Homo sapiens: one gene and its partner. The protein of the gene in region 2 interacts with the protein of the main gene of each other region in a pairwise test. Each region holds a gene or a part of one and is shown on either strand. Other genes may lie near its edges.

Region 1 (3,657 bases), on a different chromosome or scaffold from region 2:
TGTTATATTTTTCACTTGCTTATCCAGTTTTTCTGAAGTCTGACTCCCTTGAACCTTTTCAAGTAAACTCTTTTTCTTTTCAAAATGCTTTGGCTCTGACTCTTCCTTTGAAATTTTTGGGGAAAAAATGTTCTCTGATCTTAAAAGGGATTGTAAGAAAACATGAAAAGCCTCTCACTGTTGTTGATGTTTCATTAATTTGTTGCTCTGTTTGGCACTGTCAATTTAAAATAAATTTCTATGCCTCTTTCAGCAATCAAATCTGAACTTAGTTTTTGAGTAGATTAAATATATGCAATCAAATTTATTAGAACCTTTACCGGTAGCAAAGGTAAATTTTTTCTAACTAACTCCTAATACGCAAGGACTTCTTTATGACTTGAATAATTCATAGTAGTCATCATCTTGAATATTTACTTAATCCTAATGGAAATAATACTTCAAAATATCATTGGCCAAAGCTCACACAGGAGAAATAAGAGATCATTACAGTGGCAGGTGTAATTAATAGGCAGATAATTAAATATCCCTAGATCTATTAAAGAAATTAAATCAACCATAACCTTTCAGAGCAGAAAGCACCAAGCTCAAATAGTTTTACTAGTGGATTCTACCAAACATTTAAAGAAGAAATGACATCAATGTTCTACAGTCTTTTCCAGAAAATAGAAGAGATAATACTTCCTAACTAATCGGGTGAGACTAGCATTACCCAATACTAAATTCGGCAAAGACAATTACTATGAAGAAAAGTTATAGGCCAGTATCTCTCATGAGCAGATACAAAAATTCTCAACAAAATATTAGCAAATTGAATTCAACAATGTATAAAAACAGTTACACACTACAGCCAATAGAGATTTATTCTAGGTATGCAAAGTTGGTTCAAGTTTCAGAAATCAATGTAATCACATCAATTAGCTAAAGAAAAATGTGAATATATCAATAAGTGCAGAAAACACATTTGACAAAATACGACGCTCAATCATGATAAAAACTAGGAACGGAAGGGAATTTCCTTAATGCGATAAAGAACATAGAAAACCTATAGCTGACATAATGGTAAGAAACTAGATGCTTTCCCCCTAAGATCAGGAACAAGACAAGGATGTTCCTTCTTACCATGCCTATTCCGCATCACACTGGAAGTCTTAGCTAATGCAATAAAACAAGAATAATAAAAGATGATTGAGAAAGAATAAATAAAACTATCTTTGTTCACAAATGATATGATTATGTATAAAATCTCAAAGAACTGATTAAGTTTTTTTTTTAAATAGGTGATTATGACAATGTTGCAGGATACAAAGTTTTACAAAAAGTCAATTGCTTTCCTATATATAGCAGTGAACAACCAGAATTTGAAATTAAAAACATAAGCCCATTTACATTTGTGCCAACAAAACAAAAACAATGACAACAACAAAAACCTTAGGTGTAAACCTAACAAAATATGTACAAGATTTATGTGAGAAAAACTATGAAGCTATGATGAAGGAAATAAAAGAATATCTGAATGAAATAAGATGTTCCACATTTATGGATAGGGAGACTTAATATTATATTATTAAGATATCTATTCTTCCCAGTTTGATCTACAGATTCAATACTATCCCATTCAGAATTCCAGCAAGTTATTTTATGGATATTGACAAACTGATTCTAAAGTGTATATGGAGAGCAAAAGACCAGAATAGCCAACACAATATTGAAGTGGAAGAATAAAGTTTTTGAAAACTGACACTATCCTTGATTACTACCACTACGGTGATCAAGACAGTGTGGTATCAATGAAAGAATAAAGAAATAAATCATTGAAACAGAATAGCCCAGAAATAGACTGATACAAATATAGGAAACTGATCTTTAACAAAGGAGCAAAGGCAATTCAATGGAGAAGGGATAGTCTTTTTAACAAATGGGTGCTGGTATAACAATATCTGCATGCGAATAAATGAGTCTGTAAACAGACCTTAAATTTTTCACAAAAATTAACTCAAAATGGATTATAGAACTAAATGTAAACTGTGAAACTATACAGCTTCTAAAAGATAAGAAAATTCAGGTGACCAAAGTATGATCTATGAAAAGAAAAATGGATCAATTGGACTTTATTAAAACTAAAACCTTTTGCTCTGAGGAAGTCACTGTTAAGAGAATGAAAAGCCACAGGAAAAAATATTTGCAAAACATATTCTGAAAAAGGGATTTGTATCCAAAATATACAAAGATCTGTTAACATTCAATGATAAGAAAATAACCTAATTACAAAATGAGCAAAAGATTTGAACAGATATGTCATCAATGAAGATAAACAGATGGTAAGATTATTAATATATGTGATTAGAGAATTGCACATTAAAACAAGATATCATTATATACCTATTAGAATGGCTAAAGTTTTAAAAAAGAACACTGAAAACACTGAACGTTGGAAAGGATGTGGAACGACAAGCAGGAATTCTCATTCATTGCTGATAGGTATGCAAAATGGTACAGTCACTTTGGAAGACAGTCTGGCAGTTTTTTACAATGGTAACCACAGCTTTTCAAATGATACAACATTATACTTATTCAAATGAACAAAAACTTACGTCCACACAAAAACCTGCACACAAATGTTTGTAGCAGCTTTATTCATATATTTGTTCAAAGCTGGAAATACCAAGTGGTTTTTCAATCTGTGAATGAATAAACTGTGATACATCCATGTAATGGAGTATTATTTAGTGATTAAAAAGAAATGAGCTATCAAGCTACAAAAGGACACGAAGAAACCTTAAATGTATATTGCTAAATAAAAGAGGTCAGTCTGAAAAAGCTACATACTGCGTGATTCCAACTATGTGACATTCTAGAAAAGGCAAAACTGGAGATAGTAGGATCAGTGTTTGCCAACAGTTTAGGAGGAGAAAGGAAGGGATGAATAGGTGGAACACAGGGACTTTTTAAGGCGGCAACACCATTCTGTATGATTCTGTAACGGTGGACACAGGACGTTACACGTTTGTCAAAACTCATAGAACTGTACAACACAAAGAGTGAGCCCCAATGTAACTATGAACTTTAATAATGTAAGAATATTGGCTCCTCAGTGGTAACAAATGTACCACGTTGAGGCAAGATGTTAATAACAGGAGAAACCTTGTGTATGTGCAGGGTGGTATGTGGGAACTCTCTCTTTACCTTCTTTGTAATTTTTCTGTTAACCTAAATCTGCTCCAAAAATAGTCTTTTATATATAATATATATATATATATTTATATATATTAGCTCCTTACTTGAGAGATTAGTTCCATGAATTCATCACTGTGTCTAGGTCAGTTTATAGAATTTCTTCGAGTAAGAGATGGGTTTGTGAGCATTTAGGTATTTGGAAATTGGTAATGTATGCATGATATATTTATGGAAACTATTGCACAAAAACACTCCATTTCTTTTTAGCCATGCCCAATGGAGTTTATTGTGCCTAAAATTTGCTGCAGTCTTGCACAATAAATGCTCATGATCTATACCTCTATTTATTTTATCGTCATCCTCAGCTGCCTGATTTCTCTCATCCAGTGCCTTTCTTAGTAAACTTTATCCAAAGTCCTATCTGGGTAGCTGTTTTCCAAACATTGCACATCCTAATATAGGTTTAAGCTTTAGCACATG
Region 2 (2,842 bases):
GGGCGCAGACGCTGGCCCGGATGGTCTCCACGTCATTCTCGGTGCTATAGTGCGTATCGAGGACTTGGGGGGCGAACCCTGGAGGGCAGTGCTGGACACAGCTCTTCTGGTGCAGGGAGAAGCCTTCCTCGCACACTGCCGGCGTGGGAGAGAGGGCAAGTGTGTGTCAGCTAAACAGACTGTAGCCCCAGGACCACAGCAGCCCCAAGCCAAGTCACCACATCCCCAGGATCCTCCAGCCCCAGGACTGTGGTCATCCCAAGAGCCCCAGGGGCCCTAGGTCTCTTGAGACTTTTTTCTGTTAGAGCTGGGCTTCAGGACAGGCACCCGCCTTACCCCCAGACTCAGGCCCCCAAAGCCCAACAGCACCCACTACTGACCCACACAGGCCTGACTGGACGTGAGGGTCTTGCAGCCACTGCTTTCTGGAGGTACGGGCAGCCCCTCAGGGGCGGTGCCATAGAGTACGAGGGTGAACTTGGTCAGCGTCCCTGTTCCAGAGCGGGGAGGAGGCAAGAGTTAAGACAGTGCTGGCACCACACCCAGTGCTCGAGATCCTGCCAGCCCTCCACCTCGTACCCCTACCCCTCAAGTGCCCCCAGTACCATAGTTGTTGGCTTCGCTGGTGTTTTCAATCTCTAGGACCCACTCGCCAGAGGGATCCTCATCCCAGGAATGAGTTGTCATGAAGGCCCAGTCATTAAACCCATCTGCGGAGTAGTCATGTGGCCTGGGGAGGGGAGTGCACACAGCCCTGAGGCCTCTGCGGGACCCCAAGCCAGGGACATCTAACCCACAGCACATGGGCCACACACCCTTCCCCCACGCAGACCAACCCCATGGGGCCAGAAGTGCCTGCTGGCTTGGCTGTTTCTCAGTGAGCCAGACGTGCTCAACTGGGGGATTCTAGAAAGGTACACAGGCACCGCACAAGGTGGGGCACACTACTGACATTAAATGGTTGCAAGCCAGGGATTCCTGCAACATGGGACAGTCCCACAGGACAAAATTGTCCCTCCCAAAATGCCAAGAGTGCCCCACTGAGTAGCACTCAGTGCCCCCTGGGCCGTGTGAGCGAGCAAAGGCAAGCACGCGGGCTGTGAGAGGCGGCGGCGCTGGGCAGGGCGGGCAGGGACAGAGCAAGCACCTGGCTGCCAGCAGGGTGGAGCGGGTGCCCATGGGGCTGACCAGGTGGATGGCCAGGTCGCCACGGCGATTATAGGACAGGGTGAGCCGCGCCTGAGCGTGCTCCAGCCGAGTGATGTGGTTGGGCTCGCCCAGGCACGCGGTCACGGTCTTCCGCACCTCGAGCCGTTTCCCGATGTCTCTGTGCAGGAGAGCACCATGATGGTCAGCCTGGCCCAGAGGGACCAGCGGGCACCCCCTGCGACTCTCAGGTCCCACTGGCCCCCTCCCAGCCTGGGTCCAGCCCTCACTTGGGCTCGGTGAGGATGTCGATGATGCACTTCCGCTGGGGGGCCACTGTGGTCCAATTCTGGGCCAGGGCCACCATGGCGCCTGCGTCCAAAAGCCCGTAGCCATATGAGTGGCTCACTGTGGGGACAGGGAAGGTAGGGTCAGCTGTCAGGCACAGAGTGCCTTCTACCTAACTCCACATCCAGCCTGCCGGGCCAGCCTGCCCTCACCTTTCCGGCCCACACCATTGGTGGCCCAGTCGTTGGCATTGAGGTGGGCTGGCTTCGAGGTCTGTACCACCAGGTGTTGCATGTCCCGCCATGTGAGGTTCTTACTGCAAAGAAGGAAGGGAGAGGCTGGGGATCAGTCTTTTTTGGGAGCAGCTCTCCAGCTGCCCTAAGGGCTGCCCTACAGAGAGTGCTGGTAGGGACAGGGTTGCCGCTGGCCCCCACCCACTTACTTGGCCTCCAGGGTGAGAGCAATGATGCCGGCTGCTAAGGGGGCAGAGGCTGAGGTGCCCGTGTGAGACTCCGTGCACTTCTGCCGCAAGTCAGTCGTCACCTGCCAGGAAGAGAATCATATTGGGGCCTGTGATGGGTGGAGGGGGCTAGAGGAGCCACCTGCCTACCCTCCCTCTGCATACAGGCCCTGGGCACCACAGATGGTATGGGGAGCCAGGGCCAAGAACCCCAGGTCCCAGCTGCTGCCTTGCTAACTTGCCGTGGACATGCTAATGACGAGCCCCTCCTGGGCCTCATTTTCCAAAGGAATAAGGGGGTTCAACTAGAGGGTGGAGATGAATAAGAACAAAGTATGTTTTTAGAGAGAGTCTAGGCTTTTCAAAGTCTTCAGAGATGGCTCCATGGCCTCCAAGAACCTACAGAGCCCCAGAGTTCATGTTGCATGATGCCTGAGCCACTATCACCCAGCCACATGGGGGTGGAGGCAGACAGCCTCCAAAAGAGGGTGCTGGACAGAGCCAGCCAGCAGCCCCATCTCCCCAGCCCCCACCCCCAGGTAAGACTCACGATCTGCTTCTCATTCTGGTTGCCACTGCTGTAGGTCGTGGCCAGTGTGGACGAGCAGGCCTCGCTGTACCACGGCACGTTGCCAAACTGCGTGGCGCTGCTGATGGACAGCGTGTAGATACTGTTGGTGTAGCCGTCGCAGTTGCAGCTGTCATGTTCCCGGCCCCCGTTCCCCGAGGCCCAGACAAAGATGGAGCCCAGCCCCCCTCGGCCCTGTGGACAGAGTGGGCTGGGGTCATTCAAGATTGGGACTTGAGGGAGGGCTGGCAGGAGGACACTGCTGGAAAACTGGGAAGGCTGGAGCCTCATTCTCTGGGAACCTCCTGTCCCCTGTGAGATCCCTGGTGGATCAAGTATGTATCCAAATATGTCTATCTAGGCACACAAAAAATCAGACC

Evidence for each region.
Region 1: the proteins of FURIN (region 2) and MARCHF1 interact in a protein complementation assay, tested with the Homo sapiens proteins (2 studies listed by BioGRID).

What each region holds. Positions count from the first base shown.
Region 1 is NC_000004.12:163,530,437-163,534,093, forward strand, and holds part of MARCHF1 (E3 ubiquitin-protein ligase MARCHF1), read right to left. Parts: intron 1-3,657. UniProt on the Homo sapiens protein: E3 ubiquitin-protein ligase that mediates ubiquitination of TFRC, CD86, FAS and MHC class II proteins, such as HLA-DR alpha and beta, and promotes their subsequent endocytosis and sorting to lysosomes via multivesicular bodies.
Region 2 is NC_000015.10:90,878,579-90,881,420, reverse strand, and holds part of FURIN (furin isoform 1 preproprotein), read right to left. Parts: intron 2,658-2,842; coding exon 2,445-2,657; intron 1,978-2,444; coding exon 1,877-1,977; intron 1,751-1,876; coding exon 1,647-1,750; intron 1,555-1,646; coding exon 1,437-1,554; intron 1,328-1,436; coding exon 1,148-1,327; intron 731-1,147; coding exon 606-730; intron 492-605; coding exon 381-491; intron 136-380; coding exon 1-135. UniProt on the Homo sapiens protein: Ubiquitous endoprotease within constitutive secretory pathways capable of cleavage at the RX(K/R)R consensus motif. Mediates processing of TGFB1, an essential step in TGF-beta-1 activation.